2 separate regions of the Homo sapiens genome follow, and region 2 is linked to region 1. Evidence: fine-mapped expression QTL. A gene starts in region 1. The other region holds a variant in brackets. All regions are shown on one strand. Distances are between the middles of the regions.

Region 1 (5,386 bases):
TATTTGAACCAGGAGACTAAAAGGAGGCTGAATATGCTATAATAATGAACTTGGTTCTACAATTTTAGCAGAGCCTTAACTTTTGTTTTTGTCAATTGGGGGTGCACTGACTAACTCTGCTAGGAGATGGGGAAAGCACATTTTAAAATGTCTCAAAAAAGAAATACAACCATCCTTTCTTTCCCATTGTTCATCCTTTGCCCGGGTGTTATGGTACTTAGCAGATGTCAGTTAGGTTTTTCTACTTTTCCCCAGTTATCTGTTTACCCACCTTTAGGCATCATCTCTACCCACCCCACCTACTCACACACTCCATAAAAAACCCAGTGAAAATTACGAGGAGGAGATTTTTTTAGAGAGCATAAGAATTTTCCAGTATTTGCTTCTTCATTGCTTGCTAAAACCATGCCAGCATAGCCTGGGGAAAGGTGGAAAGGGCTGGCATTGCCCCATATAAGGGAATTATATCCTCAAATCATTTGAGATAAGTAGGCCCCAAAGACAAATCCAAAACAGCTACTCCCTCATTCTCAGGAAATAAATTCTAGAGATTTCCTCAAATGGATAAATTTGAGAATCCGATTAGCTGCCACTTTTTCTTTATTTTTCTGATTATTTTAGGAAGACTCAAACAGATGTTAATACTTACTACCCTGTCTTTTTGTCAGTAAAGGCATGAACAGACAACAAAATAATCATGAACATACCAATCAGAAGAGTGCTCTCTGTAATATTAGCATTTATGATTTGTTTCGTTCATCTTATTTGGGGCATTCAAAGTGCTTTACAAATAACATAATGAGGGTTTTTTTTCCTTCCATGACTCCCAAGGTGATTCCTGGCACTCTCAAAAGGCACAAGTGATTAGTCAAGTCCTTGGGGCCCAGCAGCAGTAATGTGATGCATGTTGGTTAAACTGTGTTTCACACTCATGTAAATTGTGTGGGGGGCGGGTGGGGAATCTTCCACACTGTCCTTGAGAAGATTAGCAAGAATTATGAATTTAAAGATTCTTACATTTATAAAAATCCAAACAAAGAGAAATATTGAACAAATCATACTCCAGTCCTAAAATCAAAGTCTAAGGGTCTTAACCTGTGGTCCCAGGAATAGGGTTTCAGGTCACCTGTAAATCTTCTGAAATTGTATGCAAAATTTTGTGTGATTTTACTTTTTTTTTTGCAGAAATGGTGGACTGGTTTCTGAAGATTCTAAAAGCAATTCTTGACACCGAAAAGGTTAAGAACTGCTGTCATTAAAGAAAAAGAAAGGAAGGAAGAGGGAGAGAGGAAGGGAGGAAAGGAGAGAGGAAGGGAAGGAGGAAGATCAGTTGATCTTTGTATCTACATTACTTAGTTTATTACTGGCCTGCTATGTTGAAGTACACCCTTATACACAGAGAAAAGGGAAGGTAAATAAAGGGAATTAAGAAAAAGTTAACAATAAGGCCGAGCATGGTGGCTCACACCTGTAATCCCAGCACTTTGGGAGGCTGAAGTGGGAGGACTGCTTGAGATCAGGAGTTCAAGACCAACCTGAGCAACATGACGAAACCCCATCTCTACAAAAAATACAAAAATTAGCCGGGTGTGGTGGTGTGCACCTGTGGTCTCAGTTACCTGTGGGGGCTGAGGTGGGAGGATTGCTTGAGCCCAGGTGACAAAGTGAGACCTTGTCTAAAAAAAGAAAAGAAAAAAGAAAAAAAAAAAAACCAATAGTATGGTCATCTTGTTTCAAAAGCCTCTGAGTTTTCAAATGAGTTTAGATTGCATTTCCAGAGCCCATGGTTATGAAAAATGTAGACATTAATTAATTCAGTTTGTGAAAAATGTTTAGAATAAATGTGCATCAAAAACTTTTTTCTCTAGGATACATTTCTGATCATTATGTTGAATCCTTCAGAAGTAGCCTTCAATGAAATAGCTATTCCATTTACAGCAATATGATTTTGTATTAAAAGGGGCTATTAAAAATATAAAAGGGTGATATAGAGATTTCTACATATTCAGAATACTATTTCAGCATATAAAAACTCACATAATTCCAATACTAATTATAATAGAACGCTATTCTCACTTAAGACAATGTTTAAGTGAAACTCAGTTCTTCTCATTACACACCAAAGCCCCATGAAGTGTTTAGAATTAGGTTTCACCAATAAAGCCCCCATGTAATTAATCAGTACACATTTTCAATCAGGATATGTTTTTTGTTCTGTACATAGGGGAGTGAATGCTGAAGATTCCCCTATTCTTTTTCTGTGTTAGAAAGGAATAAACCAATCTCCCTCCATCCCTAATCTTTTTCATTCTTTAATTATTCTTAATCCCAAAGAGGCATGTCCATGTCAGATTTACGCTGTCTAGCATCCTTTCTTTAAGACTGCTCTCAAAATTTAACTCATCTTCAACTATATTTATTAATATGCAGAACAACTTCAGTCTCCAGTTTATCGATAACCTGCAAAGCGCAGTTAAGACATAATATAAAAATTAAGCAAGGAAATAAATGTTTTACAAATTGTTATAACTCTTAAATAAAAGTTATTTCTTTGAATGCCTACCTCAAATAAATGTTAGCATATATTGGATTTAAATTAGTACACCACGTGGTAAGGATTGATGGGTTTTCATCTCTTATAAAATTGTTTCCCCTTTCAGTGCCCCTTAAAGCATATAAAAGCGCATACTTACCCCATGTTGCCTGCGGTGGTTATATCATCCTCAGATCAAGGCTTATCTGGGTTCTGAATTAACTTAAAGGTTATAAAAAGAAGCAGTAGAGAGGCTTGACTTCCCCTGAAACGAGACCGTAGTATGCTAACCAGGCTTTTAAATGAGGAAAACTAGTGTCTCTTCTAATTATATAAGCTCCAGGTCAAATTCTAGCATCAACTAATCAAATAACTGAACTGCATTTAGTTTCAATGAGTAAAAAGGAAGAAACCCATTTAGGAGGAATATCTTTGGTATACTAGAAAATTGAAAAGTTGTACTTTGAAAAGTTATTAACATAGCAATACAAGTTAAATATTTTAAGAGTAAAATATATATCTTGCTGCCTTAAATAAATTGAAAAAAATTAGGGAAAATTTATTTTGCAGCAAAGCAGATACTTTTCTATATTTTCCAGAAGTTTTTGAATTTAAATTATATGTCCTGGTCCCTGAAAACATCTTCTCACCTTATCTTAACTTGTCCAGTATTTGTCTCTTCATGAATTTCCATATAATAATAATATTTAATTCTAAAGCCATGCCAGCTAATGTTTAGCAACATATACAAAAATGTCCAATTCTTAAAATGTGTCTTTGAAAACTTACAAATAGGGTCTTTCAAAATTAGCCATAAAGCTATTATTATGAGAAACTAACAAAAATGCCATTTTTATTTTAACATTTTAGAAGACATTGTAACCCAAATTTGTGCCAGTACAGCAAAAAATAAAAATATACATCTTTTGGCAATAACATATTGAGAAATACAAATATTCACAAGATTTTGAATAGAGAAATATGACAAAGAAGTTATCTATTGTGTACACTATTTTTTGTCAGTTTTAGAATATAGAGTTTCAGCAAAAACATTCAGGTCTTTATTGTAATTTTTTAAATGTAGTTGACATATACTGCTCTGGTAATTTTTAAATTATCTTATGTAAAAAGTAAAGAAGTTTTCTGGACATAGAATATATGACAACACACAGATCTACTTTTTAAGAAATTGAGACATAATTTACACATCATACATAAAATTTGTCCCTGTTAAATGAACAATTCAGTGGTTTTTAGTACATTTTCAAGACTGTGCAACCATCACCACTGTCTAATTCTAGAAACCTCATGCCTCCCAATTTCTTCCTCCCCTGGCAACCACTAATCTATTTTCTGTCCCTAAGGATTTGCCTATTCAGAGCATTTCACATAAATGGAATCATATAATATGTGGCCGTTTGTGACTGGTTCCTTTCACTTAGTACAATGTTTGTTTGTTTGTTGTTTTTGAGATGAAGTTTTGCTCTGTCACCCATCCTGGAGTGCAGTGGCATGATCTTGGTTCACTGCAACCTCTGCCTCCTGGGCTCAAGCAGTCCTCCCAAGTAGCTGGGACTATAGGCATGTGCCACCACACCTGGCTAATTTTTGTATTTTTTGTAGAGATGGGATTTTGCCATGCTGCCCAGCCTGGTCTCAAACTCCTGGCAAGCGATCCACACACCTTGGCATCCCAAAGTGCTGGGATTACAGGATGAGCCACCTGCCTGGCCAGTACAATGTTTCTGAAGTTCATCCATGTTGTAGTATCAGTACTTCATTTTTTATGGCTGAATAATATTCCATTATGTGGACATTTTGTTTACACATTCATTAGTTGATGGACATTTGGATTGTTTCCAGTTGGGGCTATTATACATGTCTTAGTCCATTTGAACTGCTATAAGAAAATACCTTAGACAGGGTAATTTTAAACAACAGAAATGTATTGCTCACAGTTCTGGAGGCTGTTAAGTCCAAGATCAAGGCACTAGCAGATTTAGTGTCTGGTAAGGACTTGCTCTCTTCTTCAAAGATGGCACCTTCTTGCATCATTCTCTTGTGACAGAAGAAGCAAGCAATCTCCTTCACATCTCTTTTATAAGGGCACTAATCCCATCCATGAGGGCTCTGTCCTTATAACCTAATCACCTCCTAAAGGCCTCAACTCTTAATACTACCACAGTAGAGATTAGGTTTTTGTTGTTGTTGTTGTTGTTTTTAGACAGAGTCTCACTCTGTTGCCCCTGCTGGAGTGCAGTGGCGCCATCTTGGCTCACTGCAGACTCCACCTCCCAGTTTCAAGCAATTCTTGTGCCTCAGCCTCCCGAGTAGCTGGGATTACAGGCACACACCACCACGCCTGGCTAATTTTTGTATTTTTAGTGGAGAGGAGGTTTCACCATGTTGGCCAGGCTGGTCTCAAACTCCTGACCTTAAATGATGCACCCACCTTGGCCTCCCAAAGTATTGGGATTACAGTCGTGAGGAAATTAGGTTTAAACATGAATTTTGGAAGGACACATTCAGACTATAGCAATGAATAATGTTGCTATGAACATTCGTGTGCAAGTCAATTCCCTTGCGTACATACCTAGGAACTGCTGAGTCACGTAGTAACTCTATGTCTAATATTTTGAGGAAATGTATTCCACAGCAGCTGCACCATTTTATATTCCCACCAGAAATGTGTGAGGCCTCCAATTTCCCCACATCATTGCCAATCTTTGTATTGTCTGTTTTTTTTTTTTGATATAGCCATCCCACCAAACAATGCATGTTCTCACTTATAAGTGGGAGCTGAACAATGAGAACACATGGACACAGGAGGAGAACAACACACATGTTGTGGAA
Region 2 (5,386 bases), 76 kb after region 1:
CGTGATGGTGCACGCCTGTGGTCCCAGCTACTTTGGAGGCTGAGAATCACTAATCAAAAGTGGGTGGGGGGCTGTGTTTATATGTACAGGGCAATAAGAAATATTTTCTCAAGTCATTAAGATGCTTAAATATAAGATGAGGATATTTCTTTTAAATTACATTTCCTACTAAATTTTTTTTTCATTAGGATATGTGTAGATTTTGCTGTGACTTATGAGGTCCATCAAACAAGAGTTGCATCTTTTCACTAAACTTCAACTTAGATTGTAGGATTGTTTTTATTAAGATTTCAATTAAAACTTTGTCATGAAATAGAAACTGCGGTATATTTAACTCCTAATTATATTCTAGTTATCCATGTATACTTGAGACATTCCAAGAAAATACTTAAACCATCATTGAGAGACAGGGTAGTGTTGCTTAGCTTTCAGTTCCTTGAATGATTATTATTTCCTTCTCTTTGTCTGATGTGCAGCCTATGTGAGAACAGTAGCCACAAGAAAAAGAAGTTTGTGCTTTCTTTCTCACATTTGTGCTCAGCCACTAAAAGGAGCATCTCAATCTTAAACCATGGCCGGGCGTGGTGGCTCATGCCTGTAATCTCAGCGCTTTGGGAGGCCAAGGTGGGCGGATCACCTGAGATCAGGAGTTCGAGAGCAGCCTGGCCAACATGGTGAAACCTCCGTCTCTACTAAAAATACAAAAATTGGCTGGGCGTGGTGGCACACACCTGTAGCCCCAGCTACTCGGGAGGTTAAGGCAAGAGAATCACTTGAACCCAGGAGGCAGAGGTTGCAGAAAGCCAAGATTGCGCCACTGCACTCCAGCCTGGATGACAGAGCAAGACTCTGTCTCAAAAAAAAAAAAAATATTGAATCACTTAATGATGTCCCTATTCCTAGGAAAAGAGATGAGCCAGCAAGACCATAATGAAGGAGAAAGAGGAAACATTCTGCTGAGTTCCACTGAGAGCACGAACCACTCTAGGCCTGAGTAAGGAACTGAGAGGACAGGAGCAAAAATGCAAGTAGGAAAAGCTAGGTAGTAGACAGTGCCGCAGCACTTGGAGTTGGAATTCCAGTCAAAACAAACAGCATTTTTTGCTGTCCTAAGAATTTCGTGGAAAATCAGGCCTACCCAAAATCCAATGAGAGTGTTTAAAATTGTAATCTAGAGTTAAATAAATGATCCTTGGATTTATTGAATTTTTGCATTTCTGCATAACCGTTTCAGTTTGCCTGCCAGTTTGCGTAAGTGAAAGCTGCTTCTTGGAAATGACCAGACAAGATCCTCTTCATACCTGAGGAATGAATCCACTTGAGCCTCATTGCTACCCCCTGAAATAATGCATTTTTATAATCACTCATTTTTGTAAGACTTAACACTTTGTTATGCTGATGCCCTTGCTTAAAGGTTTTTCCACTTCTTTCAGGAAATGGCCAGCCTCAAACGACAATTCACGGAACTGTTATCGGATATAGGGTTTGCAAGGGAAGGGCTCAGAGCAAGGGAAATTGAGAAAAGGGCCCAAGGAGGAGATGGTGTCTTAGATGCCACAGGAGAAGAGGTAAAGAATGTGGAGTTGGTTCTCATTTCTCTTTAATTAGCACCTAAATACAATCTTAACCTGGGAACACTTGTAGACATTCTTCTTCACTTAAGCCTTTGAGCAGTGGGTTAATGGCATTCTTGATTTTCTGCTTCGCACAAATAAATATCAGCTGATCTGGCACGGTGGCTCGTGCCTATAATCCCAACACTTTGGGAGGCTGAGGCAGGTGGATTGCTTGAGCTCAGGAGTTCGAGACCAGCCAGAGCAACATGGTGAAATCCCTCATCTCTCTACAAAAAAATTAGCCAGGCATGGTGGTGTACCACCTGTCTTCCCAGCTATGTGGGAGGGTGAGGTGGGAGAATGATGTGATCCCAGGAAGCAGAGGTTGCAGTGGGCTAAGATTGAGACACTGCACTCTAGCCTGGGCAACAGAGCCAAACCCTGTCTCAAAAAAAAAAAAAGTATAAAAAAATTTTTTTAAGTGTCAGCTAACACTCATAAGAATAGAGGGGGCTGGGCACGGTGGCTCATGCCTGTAATCCCAGCACTTTGGGAGGCCAAGGTGGGCAGATCACTCAAGGTCAGGAGCTCGAGACCAGCCTGCCCAACATGGAGAAACCCTGTCTTTACTAAAAATACACAATTATCCAGGCATGGTAGCACATGCCTGTAATCCCAGCTACTCGGGAGGCTGAGGCAGGAGAATCGCTTGAACCCGGGAGGTGGAAGTTGCGGTGAGCCGAGAT[C/T]GCGCCATTGCACTCCAGCCTGGGCAGCAAGAGCGAAACTCTGTCTCAAAAAAAAAAACAGGGTTTTCTGCTCATTGTTGCTGTTGTTTTTGGTTTTTAAATTTCATGCTGCTTCTTGATAAATTCATAAGAGATAGAATAGACTTCCAGTAGAATTTTCTCAAATCAGGCCAGCATTTTTTCTAACAAAAGACAGCTTTTTCTATAACTATAGGAAGAGCACTTCTGTAAGATGAACCTGATGCTCCTGTGTTCCGAGTGCAGTTAGCACTTTCTGGAGATTCTGAACATCTCATGAACCATAATTTTTTTCTCCATTTATACTCAGGAACACTGGCTTTGTAACGCTTTGCAAAGGTCTAGAAAGTCATTGTAGGCTCCTTGGAGTGGGTCCAATGTGACTGTGGTCCAGTAGATTTGTTTTTTTACTTAGAAATAATTTTTCTAGCAAAGAGATAGAAATTAGGTGCTCTTTTTTTTGCTTTAAGATAGAGATCAAATATAATAAAACGGTAAATCCTACAGCACAGACAGAAATAGCCATATTAGAGCCAGACGCAGTGGCTCACGCCTGTAATCTCAGTACTTTGAGAGGCTGAGGTGGGCAGATTGCTTGAGGTCCAGAGTTGGAGACCAGCCTGGCCAACATGGTGAAACCTTGTCTCTACTAAAAATACAAAAATTAACCGGGCATAGCGGTGTATGCCTGTAATCCCAGCTACTCGGGAGGCTGAGGCAGGAGAATCGCTTGAACCTGGGAGGCGGAGGTTGCAGTAAGCTGAGATGGCGCCACTGCACACTTGCCTGGGTGACAGAGCAAGACTCCATCTCAAAAAGAAAAAAAAGAAATAGCCATATCACTTGTTAATTAATGCTGTGCTTTTCTCATAGGCAAACTCAAATGCTGAGAACCCCAAGCTGATATCAGCAATGCTGTGTGCTGCTTTGTATCCAAATGTAGTGCAGGTAACAAAACATTTTTCCTAGATCTTTCCATTTTTTGTTTGATTTGTAGCCAAGTGATGTAAGTTAAGATGTGCATATTAATCATCTTAAAGAGATATATACGCATGTGTGCACACACGCACACCCTTTTAAACTTAGTATACATTTTCGGCCGGGTGCGGTGGCTCACGCCTGTAATCCCAGCACTTTGGGAGGCCGAGGCGGGCGGATCACGAGGTCAGGAGATCGAGACCATCCTGGCTAACACGGTGAAACCCCATCTCTACTAAAAATACAAAAAAAATTAGCCAGGCATGGTGGCGGGCACCTGTAGTCCCAGCTACTCGGGAGGCTGAGGCAGGAGAATGGCATGAACCCGGGAGTCGGAGCTTGCAATGAGCCGAGATTGCGCCACTGCACTCCAGCCTGGGTGACAGATGGAGACTCCATCTCAAAAAAAAAAAACTTAGTATACATTTTCAATCCTTCAGTTCCCAAAATCTGTTTGGATACATTATTCAATAACACATTTATTGTATAAAATTTTTAATCCTTCTGACATATGATATTCCAAAAATTAAAATAGACATAAATGTCAGTCGGCCAACCTATATATAACTAACTTTCTATGTTAGTTGGAAACTTGATTCAACTACAGTTTATCTTACACTCTCTACTCTGAACAAAAAGTAAAATAGCCAGGCATGGTGGCTCACGCCTGTAATCCCAACACTTTGGGAAGCCGAGTTGGGCAGATCACGAAGTCAGGAGTTTAAGACCCTCCTGGCTAACATGGTGAAACCCTGTATCTACTAAAAATACAAAAATTAGCTGGGTGTGGTGGTGCATGCCTGTAATCCCAGCTACTCAGGAGGCTGAGGCGGGAGAATTGCTTGAACTCAGGAGGCGGAGGTTGCAGTAAGCCAAGACCATGCCACTGTACCCCAGCCTGGGCCACAGACCGAGACTCTGTCTCAAAAACAAACAAACAAACAAACAAGTAAATAAGGGACAGGCACGATGGCTCACGCCTGTAATCCAAGCACTTTGGGAGGCCGAGGCGGGCGGATCGCCTGAGGTCAGGAGTTCGAGGCCAGCCTGACCAATATGGAGAAACCCCATCTCTACTAAAAATACAAAATTAGCCAGGCGTGGTGGTGCATGCCTGTAATCCCAGCTACTCAGGAGGCTGAGGCAGGAGAATCGCTTAAACCCGGGAGGCAGAGGTTGTGGTGAGGCGAGATCATACCATTGCACTCCAGCCTAGGCGACTAGAGCGAAACTCCGTCTCAAATAAAAATAAAAAATCAGTGCTTTGCCATAAGACCACCTGTGGCCAGCCTTCTGGAAACCCTACTTGAGTGTGCTCTTGGACTTTTACCTGAGTTTTGATTATCCATCCCTAACAAGGCACCATTTTCCCCCAGAGAGTTTCAATTTGGCAGAATACTGAATCATTTTTCAAAGCCTTAACTTTTTTTATTAAATCCTCAGTTAACATCTGACTGATTTATGGCTCATTTTCTGCTTAGCATTTGTATGCTTTTCAAACCATTTGAAATGTACTTTTAAAAAATTGTTTGTGCTTTGTAGTGTGGTTATGAAAGGGAAAAAAGTCATTTGGATATAGATTTACTGGTTTTTATATTATACTCTAGTAATGTAAGGTCTTACCGTTGGTGGAAGCTGGGTGAAGGGTACAAGGAACTCTGTACTATTTTGCCGCTTCCTGTGAGTCTATAATTATTTCAAAATAAAAAGATTATTTAAAAAAGAATGTGGGGGCCAGGAGCATTGGCTCATGCCTATAATCCAAGCACTTTGGGAGGCTGAGGTGGGCGGATTGCTTGAGCTCAGGAGTTTGAGACCAGCCTGGGCAACATGGCAAAACCCTGTCTCTAAAAAAAGAAAAAAGAAAAAGAATGTGGGGAAAAATCATTTGGAGACTTAAAATGTAGAAACAAAGAACATAAATGTGGTATAAGAAGTTTTAGGTGACAATATAGTTTTGAGGCTAAACCAAAAAGGAAAAGGAGATATATCTGACTGTATATCTAAGAACTCACCAATAAGAAAGACGTGGGCCCTGCTCTGTTGCCTGCCTTTGCTCCCCAGGCCCCGAGTGGTTCACTGAGCCAT

Which allele goes with the higher level. Alleles are on the strand shown, and positions count from the first base shown. SD is a standard deviation of normalised expression in the study named.
With allele T in place of C in region 2, the expression in prostate of the gene that starts at base 2,805 in region 1 is lower (moderate effect, 0.59 SD a copy in GTEx).

The links. PIP is the estimated chance that this variant, and not a neighbour inherited with it, causes the effect.
Region 2: its variant is the best candidate, but not a certain one, in a credible set for the expression of ARHGEF33 in prostate (GTEx, PIP 0.83).

The regions. Positions count from the first base shown.
Region 1 is chr2:38,887,294-38,892,679 of GRCh38, reverse strand. ARHGEF33 (Rho guanine nucleotide exchange factor 33) reads right to left here and starts at 2,805. Exons shown (of 18, transcript NM_001145451.5): 1 at 2,694-2,805.
Region 2 is chr2:38,811,703-38,817,088 of GRCh38, reverse strand. DHX57 (DExH-box helicase 57) reads left to right here. Exons shown (of 24, transcript NM_198963.3): 20 at 1,434-1,568; 21 at 3,194-3,268. It also overlaps the pseudogene ASS1P2. Among named protein-coding and RNA genes, the nearest start is that of GEMIN6, 36 kb to the right of the region's middle. The variant C/T (reference allele first, on the strand shown) is at 2,303.